Linked DNA regions of Homo sapiens. The protein of the gene in region 1 interacts with the protein of each later gene in a pairwise test. Each region holds a gene or a part of one and is shown on either strand. Other genes may lie near its edges.

Region 1 (5,364 bases):
ATTTTTTTGACTCTCAATTTGTTTGATTTTCCTGTATTATTTTCAAGCGAAGAAGTAGGCACATACAAGACACTTAAACGTTTATTAACTCTCCTTAGAAATATCTCACACACACACACACACACACACACACACACAAACACCCATACGTGTATATGCTATACAATTTTGACACTTTCATTCTGCCAAAGTATTCTTTCATTACTATGATTCAAGTTGTTTTTATCCATCTGTCTTAAAATTGATACTAATAATTGTACATATTTATGAAGTACAAAGTGATATTTTTGTACATATACAATGTGTAATGATCAAATCAGGGTAATTAGCATATGCATCACCTCAAACATTTATCATTTCATACTGCTGGGACCATTCAAATATCCTCTCTTCCAGCTACTTGAAAATATACAATAAATTATTAACTATAGTCATCCTACAGTGCCACAGAACACTAGAATTTATGCCTCCGATCTAGTTATAATTTTGTATTCATTAATCAATCCCTTAAATCTCCTCTTCTTATGCCTTTCCCTGTCCCCTCCTCAGCCTCCAGTAACCATAATTCTACTCTTTACTTCTATGAGCCCATTTTTTAGCTCCCACATGAGCAACAGAACATGCAGTATTTATCTTTCTGTGTATGACTTATTTTACATAACAATGTCCTCCAGGCTCATCCATGTTCCCACAAATGACAGGATTACATTCTTTATTATGGCTGAATAGTATTCTATGGTGGATATATACCACATTTTCTTTATCCATCCATCTGTTGATGGACACTGACGTTGATTCCATACCTTGGCTATTAATAGTGCTACAATAAGCATGGGGGCGCAGATAACTCTTTGATATGCTGGTTTCTTTTCCTTTGGATAAATACCTAGTAGGGAAGATTGCTGGATCTTACAGTAGTTCTATTTTTAGTTTTCTGAGGAACTTCCATACTGTTTCTATAAAGGCTGTAATAATTTGCATTCCTACCAAAAGTATATGAGTTCCCTTTTCTTTCTACATCCTTGCCAAAATTTATTTTTTGTCTTTCTGATAATAGACATTCTAATTGGGATAAATATCACTCCAATTTCCCAAACTGTCCCCAAACCACATTTCATTGTGGTTTTGATTTGCATTTCCCTGATTAGTTATGTTGAATACTTTTTCATATACTTGTTAGCACTTGTAGGTATTTTTTGAGAAATACAAGTTTCCCCCCAAGCTCCCCCGCCCACTTTTTTTTTTTTAAAGAGACAGGGACTCACTTTGTTGCCCAGGCTGGAGTGCAGTAGCACAATCATGGCTCACTGCTGCCTTGAATTACTGGGCTCAAGGGATCCTTCAGCCTCAGTCTCCCAAGTAACTGGGGCTATAGGCATGCACTACTGTGCCTAATTTTCTTTTGTCTCATGCTGTCACTCAGGCTGGAGTGCAGTGGCACCATCTTGGTTCATTGCAACCTCCACCTCCCAGGCTCAAACAATCCTCCTGCCTCAGCCTCCCACGCAGTTGGGATTACAGGTGTGCACCATGACAATTTTTGTATTTTTAGTAGAAATGGGGTTTCACCATGTCGGTCAGGCTGGTCTCGAACTCCTGACCTCAAGTGATCCGCCTGCCTCGGCCTCCCAAAGTCCTGGAATTACAAGTGTGAGCCACCGTGCCTGGCCTCCAATGCCCTTTATTTCTTTTTCTTGCCTAACTGCTCTGGCTAGGATTTCTAATACTATGTTGAACAAGACTGGTAAGAGTGGGCATTCCTATTTCATTCCAGTTCTTTGAGGGAAAAGCTTTTCACTTTTCCCTGTTCAGTATGATATTAGCTGTGAGTTTGACATATATGGCCTTTACTGTACTGAGAAATAGTCCTTCTACCCCTAACTTTTTGGGAGGTGTTACCATGAAGGGGTGTTCAATTTTACCAAATGCTTTTTCTCATTTACTGAGATGATCATATGGTTTTTTTCCTTCCTTCTGTTTATATGATGTAACACATTTATTGATTTGTGTATGCTGCACCATCCTTGCATCCCTAGGATAAATCCCACTTGTTCATGATGTATAATCTTTTTGATGTACTCTTGGATTTGGTTTGCTGGTATTTTGTTAAGGATTGTTTTGTAGAATACATTGGCCTGTAGGTTTTGTTGTTGTTGTTGTTTAATGAGCCTTTGTCTGTTTGTTGTTGTATAAGGGTAATGCTAGCCTTGTAGAATGAGTTTGGAAGAACTCTCTCATCTTCAATATTTCGGAACAGTTTGAGAATTGGTCTTAATTCTTCTTTAACTGTTTGGCAGAATTTAGCAATGAAGCCATGTGGTCCTGGACATTTCTTTGTTGGGAGACTTTTTATTACCAGTTCAATCTTGTTACTTGTTATTGGTCTGTTCAAGTTTTCTATTACTTCTTGGCTCAATCTCGATAGATTATAGGGGCTCAGGAATGTATCCATTTCCTGTAGCTTTTCCAATTTCTTGGCATACAGTTGTTTCATAATAATCTCTAATGATATGACTATGTCCGTGGTATCAGTTGTAATGTCTCCTTTTTTGTTTTTTACCTTAATTGGGTCTTTTTTCTAACTTGTGGTTTCTTGATTTTGTTTTCAAGAAACCAACTTTTCATTTAGTTCTTCTTTTGTGTTTTTTTGTTTGTTTTTAAGTCTCTATTTCACTTAGCTCTGCTCTGATCTTTTTATTTATTTCCTTCTGATTTTGGGTTTAGTTTGTTCTTGCTTTTCGAGTTCCCTGAGGTGCAGTGTTAGGTTGTTTATTTGAAACATTTCTACTTTTTGATGGAGGCATTTATTGCTATAAACTTCCCTGTTAGTGATGCTTTTGCTGTATCCCATAGGTTTTGGTATGTTGTGTTTCTGTTTTCATTTGTTTCAAGAAATTTTTAAATTTCCTTCTTAATTTTTTCATTGACCTATTGGTTGTTCCAGAGCATATTATTTAATTTCTGTGTATTTGCACAGTTTCCAAAGTCCTTCCTGTTACTGATTTCTAGTTTTATTCTGCTGTGGTCTGAAAAAATATTTGATGTTATTTTGATCTTTAAAAATTTGTTGAGACTTGTTTTGTAGCCTAACATATGGTTTATCCTGAAGAACACTTCAAGATAAGAAAAACGTGTATTTTGCAGCTGTTGGATGTGATGTTCTGTAAATGTCTGCTAGATCCATTTGATCTACAGTACAGTTTAAGTCTGATATTTCTTTGTTGATTTTCTGTCTAGATGATCTGTCCAGTGCTGGGAGTGTGGTGTTGAAGTCCCCAGCTATTATTACATTAGGGTTTATCTCTCCCTTTAGCTCTAATATTATTTGTTTAGATATATATATATATGGATGCTCTGGTGTTGGGTGCATATATATTTACAGTTGTTATTTCCTCTTGCTGAATTGATCTCTTTACCATTATATAATGACCTTGTCTCTTTTTATAGTTTTTTATTTAAAGCCTATTTTATCTAGCATAAGTATAGCTATTCCTGCTCATTTATGGTTTCCATTTGCATGAACATCCTTTTCTATCCCTTTACTTTCAGCCTATCTGTATCTTTACAGGTGAAGTGAGTTTCTTGTAGTCAGTATATATAGTTGAGTCTTTAAACTTTTTTTTATTCATTCAGCCACTCTAAATCTTTAATTGGGGAATTTAAAGTGTTTATATTCAACATTGTTATTGATAGGTGTGGATTTACTCCTGTCATTTTGTTAACTGTTTCCTGGTTGTTTTGTATAATCTTTGTTCCCCTTTCTTCCCCTCTTATTTTCATGGTTGGTAGATTTTTGTAATTATAAGGTTTGATTCCTTTCTGTATCTGCTCTACCAGTGAGTTTTATTCTTTCACGTTTCCATAATGGTAGTTACCGTGCTTTTGCATTCAGATGTAGGAGTTCTTTAAGCATTTCTTATAAGGCAGTCTAGTGGTGATAAATTCCCTCAGTGTTTGCCTGTCTTGAGAAGACTATTTCTCCTTCATTTTGGAAAAATAGCTTTGCTAGGTATAATACTCTTGGCAGGAGTTTTTTGGGTTTTGTTTGTCTGTTTGTTTGTTTTTTCCTTTTAGCACTTGGAATGTATCATCCCATTCTCTCCTGACTTGTAAGGTTTCTGCTGGCAAATCTGCTGTTAAACTGATGGGGGGAGGTAAATGGTGGCAGTGGACCCTGGATGAGCCAGTCTTCAGGGGGTGCACGTGGCAGCTCAGCCACTAGAATTGGCAGGGTTGCCAGTGGTGGAAGACTCCAGGTGAATGACCTTAGAATGGCCATAGCCAGCCATTCTTAAGCTTTTCCATCTCAAAATCACTGATCTCTAAATCACTGACAAACTTCTGCAGTTTTTAATGTTTCATTTACTTTTTTAATTTTTTTTTTTTTTTGAGATGAAGTATTGCTCTGTGGCCCAGGCTGGAGTGCAGTGGCGCAATCTCAGCTCACTGCAACCTCAATGCTTTTCTTCTCATATAGCACTTAAGTCCTTGGATGATGGACCTACAGCTCTTAAGAATTTCCGTGTGTGTGTCTGTGTGTGTGTGGTTAGCAGAAATGGAGGTTTCAAATGAAAACACTGGAAAAAAATGATTTCTCATCTATCCAATTATAATACCAAAACAGCAACAGCAGCAGCAGCCAATGCTGTCTTAGGTACCCAGGAAGGTGAACTAGTGAAAATCATTTGTACTCAGGAGCACTAGATGGCAGCCTGTTATATTCATCTTACATATTGAATCTGTGCAAAGTCAGCTATCAGTCTGATTGCCCTATCCCACAAATTGCATCCCAGGAGATGATTAGATGCAATAGGTGAAAGTTTTCATGTTCCTCAGTGGCATTCAGTGCATGAACAACCATTGTCCACCTAATTCCTCTGCATCTACAGCAAGAAATAGAATTTTTGTGGAGACTTAACATGCTGTGTCTTACTTACATATGTATGCAAAAAAAAAAAAAAAAGTCACTTTTTTTCTTTTTTGAGACCGAGTCTTGCTCTGTGGCCCAGGCTGGAGCACAATCACGGCTCACTGTAACCTCCGCTACCCAGGTTCAAGTGATTCTCCTGCCTCAGCCTCCTTGAGTAGCTGGGACTACAGGCACGTGCCACCATGCCCAGCTAATTTTTGTACTTTTAGTAGAAATGGGGTTTTGCCATGTTGGCCAGGCTGGTCTCGAACTCCTGACCTCAGGTGATCCACCTGTCTTGGCCTCCCAAAGTGCTGGGATTACAGGCATGAGCCACCCTGCTAGGCTAAGGATGTCACTTTTTAAGTAAGCCAGGTAAAGCTCACTCCTTGGTGAATATTCCCTTTAGGTAATTTCCTATGCAGTTAAGAACACAGGAAAAGAAAAAACATGCA
Region 2 (5,364 bases), on another chromosome or scaffold:
CAATTTTTGCCTGTAAGTTCCAAGACAGTCTTTAAAGTCGTGGTAGAAAAAAACTATCTTGAAAGGCAACATGGTTTATTAGCCAGACTTTCTCAGAGAGGAGGTAATAATGGCCACATTTATTAAGCATCCAATATGCACCAGGCAACAAGTTCTGAGTTCTCCACATTTTGTCCTCAGGACAACCCTGAGTTAGGTAGTGTTGTTGCCCACATTATATGTTTGAGGAAACTGAAGTGCATAGAGGGGAATTAACTTACTCAAGTCACACAGCAAAGATGAGACTTCAGCCCAACAGTCTGGCTCCAGATCCCATACCTTTGGGATGGTGTTCTGTTTCCAGTCATCTGTCTTTGAATCTCAAGGGTCAAACAGGATGTTCCTGACTGCACCCCACCCCAAGATGGGTCAGTGATGGGAATGAAGGAGGAATCTAGAGGTGAAAGGGTGAAGACGTGCCCAACCCCTGACACTTGTGAGAGTGCCTGGCACATAGCAGAAGAGAGTAGGGGGAGGATTCAGATAGCAGCTGATGGACAAGCAGCCTGGGCAGAGTCAGAGGGCTCAAAAGAGGAAAAATAGGAGCTGCCTGAAGTTAGGGAAAGGGGTCACAAAAGCGATCAACTGGAAGGGGGAGACATAGGGTGGGACATTAGCAAGAAAGGAAACAGAACTCCTGAGAGCCTGCCAGGGTATAAGCTGCACCCTTCTATCCTTGTGTTCTGAACTGGCCAGGGACCTCGGTCTTGGGACACTCCCAGACCAAAAGAAAGGATCTGCCCCTATGGTTGCTTCTCACTTAGCCTCAGTCGTACCTCTTAAATCCGTTCTTAATCCTGGTCCCTCTCCTGCTCAAAAACCTCCCATGGCTCCACATTGTCCACAGGATAAAGTCCATACTTGGGCTCTGAGAGACCCTGCTATAAGCATGGAGGCCCTATGCTCAGCCAAAGAGGCAGTCAGGTTCTTGGTTTCAGGGAAAACATCCCGCCTAACCCACCCAGGTTAGGCCCCTTCCCTGAAGCCTCCCAGTCCCCAAGAGCCCCCTGCAGGCTGTCAGTGAGGCCCAGGCAGAGGTGACAGCACCGTTTTATTCATGACAATCTGCAAAAAAACAGGTGGATGGGTCAGAAAGTCACTGCAAGCTTACATTCAGGGGCTCCACCCGCAGCCAAAGCCCGCCCTCGGCGCGCATGATCAATTCCAGCTTCCTGCGGGGCTCAGTGTGGTCTGGCAGGAACCGGAAGTGCAGCAGCATCAACGCCAGGACCACTTTCATCTCCGCCATGGCGAACGCCTGCCCGATGCAGTTCCTGCAGGCGGGAGTGGGGACTGTGACTGTGCCCAAGACCCGCATTTGGGTCCCATCAACCCAGGAACCTGGCCTGGGACCCCCAACTGCACCCAGCTCAGCCTGAGAGAGAGAGAGAAAGACTAAGCGTGCCTGGGACTCCCATGTGGGCTTGTATGTCCCGGAGACTGGGCCTGACTCCAGCTCCCAGCTCAGACCAGCAGATGGAGAAGGGGATTTTGAGCACTCCGCGGACCCCTCTAGGACCTACTCATCCCCATTCTATGGACGTTTTCCCATAAACTGTGAAGGAATGGAGGGAAGGAGAGCTGGAACTGGGACCATCTGCAACGTCCCCCTTTTTTTAACTCCCGCACCCATCATCCCATCCCTGCCTCAGACACAGGGCGCTCTTACCTGGGCCCTGCGGAGAAAGGAATAAAAGCCAGAGGTGACCTCCCCTTGCTGTTCTCTGGGTCAAAGCGGAAGGGGTCGTAGACCTGCAGGTGAGACAAAGAAGGTTTGCCAGTGGGATTTCCTATGTCCAGCAGCCTTGGAGAGACACTTGTGTGTGTTTTGGGGTGAGGTGATGTTGGATTTTCCTCATCAAAACCCTGCCCCCTCCACTAGGAACCTTGGAATTCACACACACACACACAAAAGTAGAGGATGGGGGTGGTGGTGGTGAATGGGGAAGGCAGCACCTCAGGATCCGGCCACACAGTTGGGTTGTGATGGACCCCTATAATATCGATGAGGCAGGTAATGCCTGTGGGAGAGAAAGGGGCAGTCAGGACAAGGATCCCCTGAGGGAACCATCTTCCTACCCGGGAGGCTTCTCCCCCTGAGGCTGTGGGCACCTTTGGGGATGACTCGGCCATCTGGGAGAACAATGTCCTGGGTGCAGCATCGGGAGATGAAGGGAGCTGGGGGATGTAACCTCAGGCTCTCCTTCACGCACATGGTCAGGAAGGGCAGCTGGGCCAGGTCGTCCCTAAGGAAACACCCCAGCCCCAGTCATTATCAAGGGAACAAATACACAACTCTCCACCTTTTCTATTTGCAAATGAGACCTTTTCTCCCTATCACAAAATAAACTCCACGGGGATCAAACATTTGAGAATTTTAAAAAGCAGAAAACAATTAGAGAAGCAGAGAATTAGAAAAGTACCAGAGAAAATTTAGCCAAATAGATAAAAATAAATACTCTGAGGAAAACACCCAGAAGCCAGCGGTAAAAAATTAACAAACTCACATAAAAATAAATATTGTCTATGGCAAGAAAGCAAACTCAAATGCAAATGAATAACAAACAAAATACCCAGATCCAATGTTTTGCTCTTATTTAGCGTGATGCTAGAGATACCAGCAAGTGCAATTAGGCAAGGGAAAAAAGGAGAGTCATGCAATTTGTTTTTTTTTTTTTATTATTATTATACTTTTAGGGTACATGTGCACAATGTGCAGGTTAGTTACATATGTATACATGTGCCATGCTGGTGTGCTGCACCCATTAACTCATCATTTAGCATTAGTTATATCTCCTAATGCTATCCCTTCCCCCTCCCCCCACCCCACAACAGTCCCCAGAGTGTGATGTTCCCCTTCCTGTGTCCATGTGTTCTCATTGTTCAATTCCCACCTATGAGTGAGAACATGCGGTGTTTGGTTTTTTTGTCTTTGCGATAGTTTACTGAGAATGATGATTTCCAATTTCATCCATGTCCCTACAAGGGACATGAACTCATCATTTTTTATGGCTGCATAGTATTCCATGGTGTATATGTGCCACATTTTCTTAATCCAGTCTATCATTGTTGGACATTTGGGTTGGTTCCAAGTCTTTGCTGTTGTGAATAGTGCCGCAATAAACATACATGTGCATGTGTCTTTATAGCCGCATGATTTATAGTCCTTTGGGTATATACCCAGTAATGGGATGGCTGGGTCAAATGGTATTTCTAGTTCTAGATCCCTGAGGAATCGCCACACTGACTTCCACCATGGTTGAACTAGTTTACAGTCCCACCAACAGTGTAAAAGTGTTCCTATTTCTCCACATCCTGTCCAGCACCTGTTGTTTCCTGACTTTTTAATGATTGCCATTCTAACTGGTGTGAGATGGTATCTCATTGTGGTTTTGATTTGCATTTCTTTGATGGCCAGTGATGGTGAGCATTTTTTCATGTGTTTTTTGGCTGCATAAAGTGTTGGAAGTTCTGGCCAGGGCAATTAGGCAGGAGAAGGAAATAAAGGTTATTCAATTAGGAAAAGAAGACGTCAAATTGTCCCTGTTTGCAGATGACATGATTGTATATCTAGAAAACCCCATTGTCTCAGCCCAAAATCTCCTTAAGCTGATAAGCAACTTCAGCAAAGTCTCAGGATACAAAATCAATGGACAAAAATCACAAGCATTCTTATACACCAATAACAGACAAACAGAGAGCCAAATCATGAGTGAACTCCCATTCACAACTGCTTCAAAGAGAAGAAAATACCTAGGAATCCAACTTACAAGGGACGTGAAGGACCTCTTCAAGGAGAACTACAAACCACTGCTCAATGAAATAAAAGAGGGTGCAAAGAAAGGGAAGAACATTCCATGCTCATGGGTAGGAAGAATCAATATCATGAAAATGGCCATACTGCCCAAGATAATTTATAGATTCAATGCCATCCCCATCAAGCTACCAATGACTTTCTTCACAGAATTGGAAAAAACTACTTTAAAGTTCATATGGCACCAAAAAGGAGCCCGCATCGCCAAGTCAATCCTAAGCCAAAAGAACAAAGCTGGAGGCATCATGCTACTTGACTTCAAACTATACTACAAGGCTACAGTAACCAAAACAGCATGGTACTGGTACCAAAACAGAGATCTAGATCAATGGAACAGAACAGAGCCCTCAGAGTTAATGCCACATGTCTACAACTATCTGATCTTTGACAAACCTGAGAAAAACAAGCAATGGGGAAAGGATTCCCTGTTTAATAAATGGTGCTGGGAAAACTGGCTAGCCATATGTAGAAAGCTGAAACTAGATCCCTTCCTTACACCTTATACAAAAATTAATTCAAGATGGAATAAAGACTTAAACGTTAGACCTAAAACCATAAAAACCCTAGAAGAAAACCGAGGCATTACCATTCAAGACATAGACATGGGCAAGGACTTCATGTCTAAAACACCAAAAGCAATGGCAACAAAAGCCAAAATTGACAAATGGGATCTAATTAAACTAAAGAGCTTCTGCACAGCAAAAGAAACTACCATCAGAGTGAACAGGCAACGTACAAAATGGGAGAAAATTTTCGCAACCTACTCATCTGACAGAGGGCTAATATCCAGAATCTACAATGAAGTCAAACAAATTTACAAGAAAAAAACAACTCCATCAAAAAGTGGGCGAAGGACATGAACAGACACTTCTCAAAAGAAGACATTTATGCAGCCAAAAAAACACGAGAGTCAGGCAATTTGAAATGTGGTAGTAAATGTATCATTTTGGCAGATAGTGATTTTATACTTAGAAAACACTAGAGGCCCCACTGGAAAACGTTTATAAACATTTAAGATCAAGCAAAGGAGCTGAATTCTCTGCTTAATCTTTCTTCTTTTGCAGTGGCTATTTAAAATTTTCATACCGTCTACAATTATCTGGTTCAGAATTTGAAAACTATAAAACATAATTCACTCCTATGGCCCAATGCCATTTACTTCTCCCCACACGTTGCCAGGTTATTATTTTTTTTAATGTATGCTTTCTGGGCTGATTTTAAGCATCTTAAAAAATTATATAGGAGCACACCATCTACTGTAGACACTATTCTGTATCTTTTTTGATGGGGGGAGGGAATGGAGTCTCTGTTGCTCAGGCTGGAGTGCAGTGACACAATCTTGTCTCACTGCAACCTCCACCTCCCTGGTTCAAGTGATTCTACTGCCTCAGCCTCCCAAGTAGCTGGGACTACAGGCATTCACCACAACAGCCAGCTAATTTTTTTTTTTATTTTTAGTAGAGATGGAGTTTCCCCAATTTGGCAAGGCTGGTCTTGAACTCCTGATCTCA

Evidence for each region.
Region 2: the proteins of TIMMDC1 (region 1) and CYP4F12 interact in binary tests that used the Homo sapiens proteins (3 or more experiments, as listed by UniProt).

Annotation. Positions count from the first base shown.
Region 1 is NC_000003.12:119,517,579-119,522,942, reverse strand, and holds part of TIMMDC1 (complex I assembly factor TIMMDC1, mitochondrial isoform 1 precursor), read right to left. Parts: intron 1-5,364.
Region 2 is NC_000019.10:15,692,857-15,698,220, reverse strand, and holds the end of CYP4F12 (cytochrome P450 4F12), read right to left. Parts: intron 2,286-5,364; coding exon 2,152-2,285; intron 2,061-2,151; coding exon 1,996-2,060; exon of another isoform or gene 1,792-1,995; coding exon 1,709-1,791; intron 1,314-1,708; coding exon 1,136-1,313; 3' UTR 1,047-1,135; downstream 1-1,046. UniProt on the Homo sapiens protein: A cytochrome P450 monooxygenase involved in the metabolism of endogenous polyunsaturated fatty acids (PUFAs).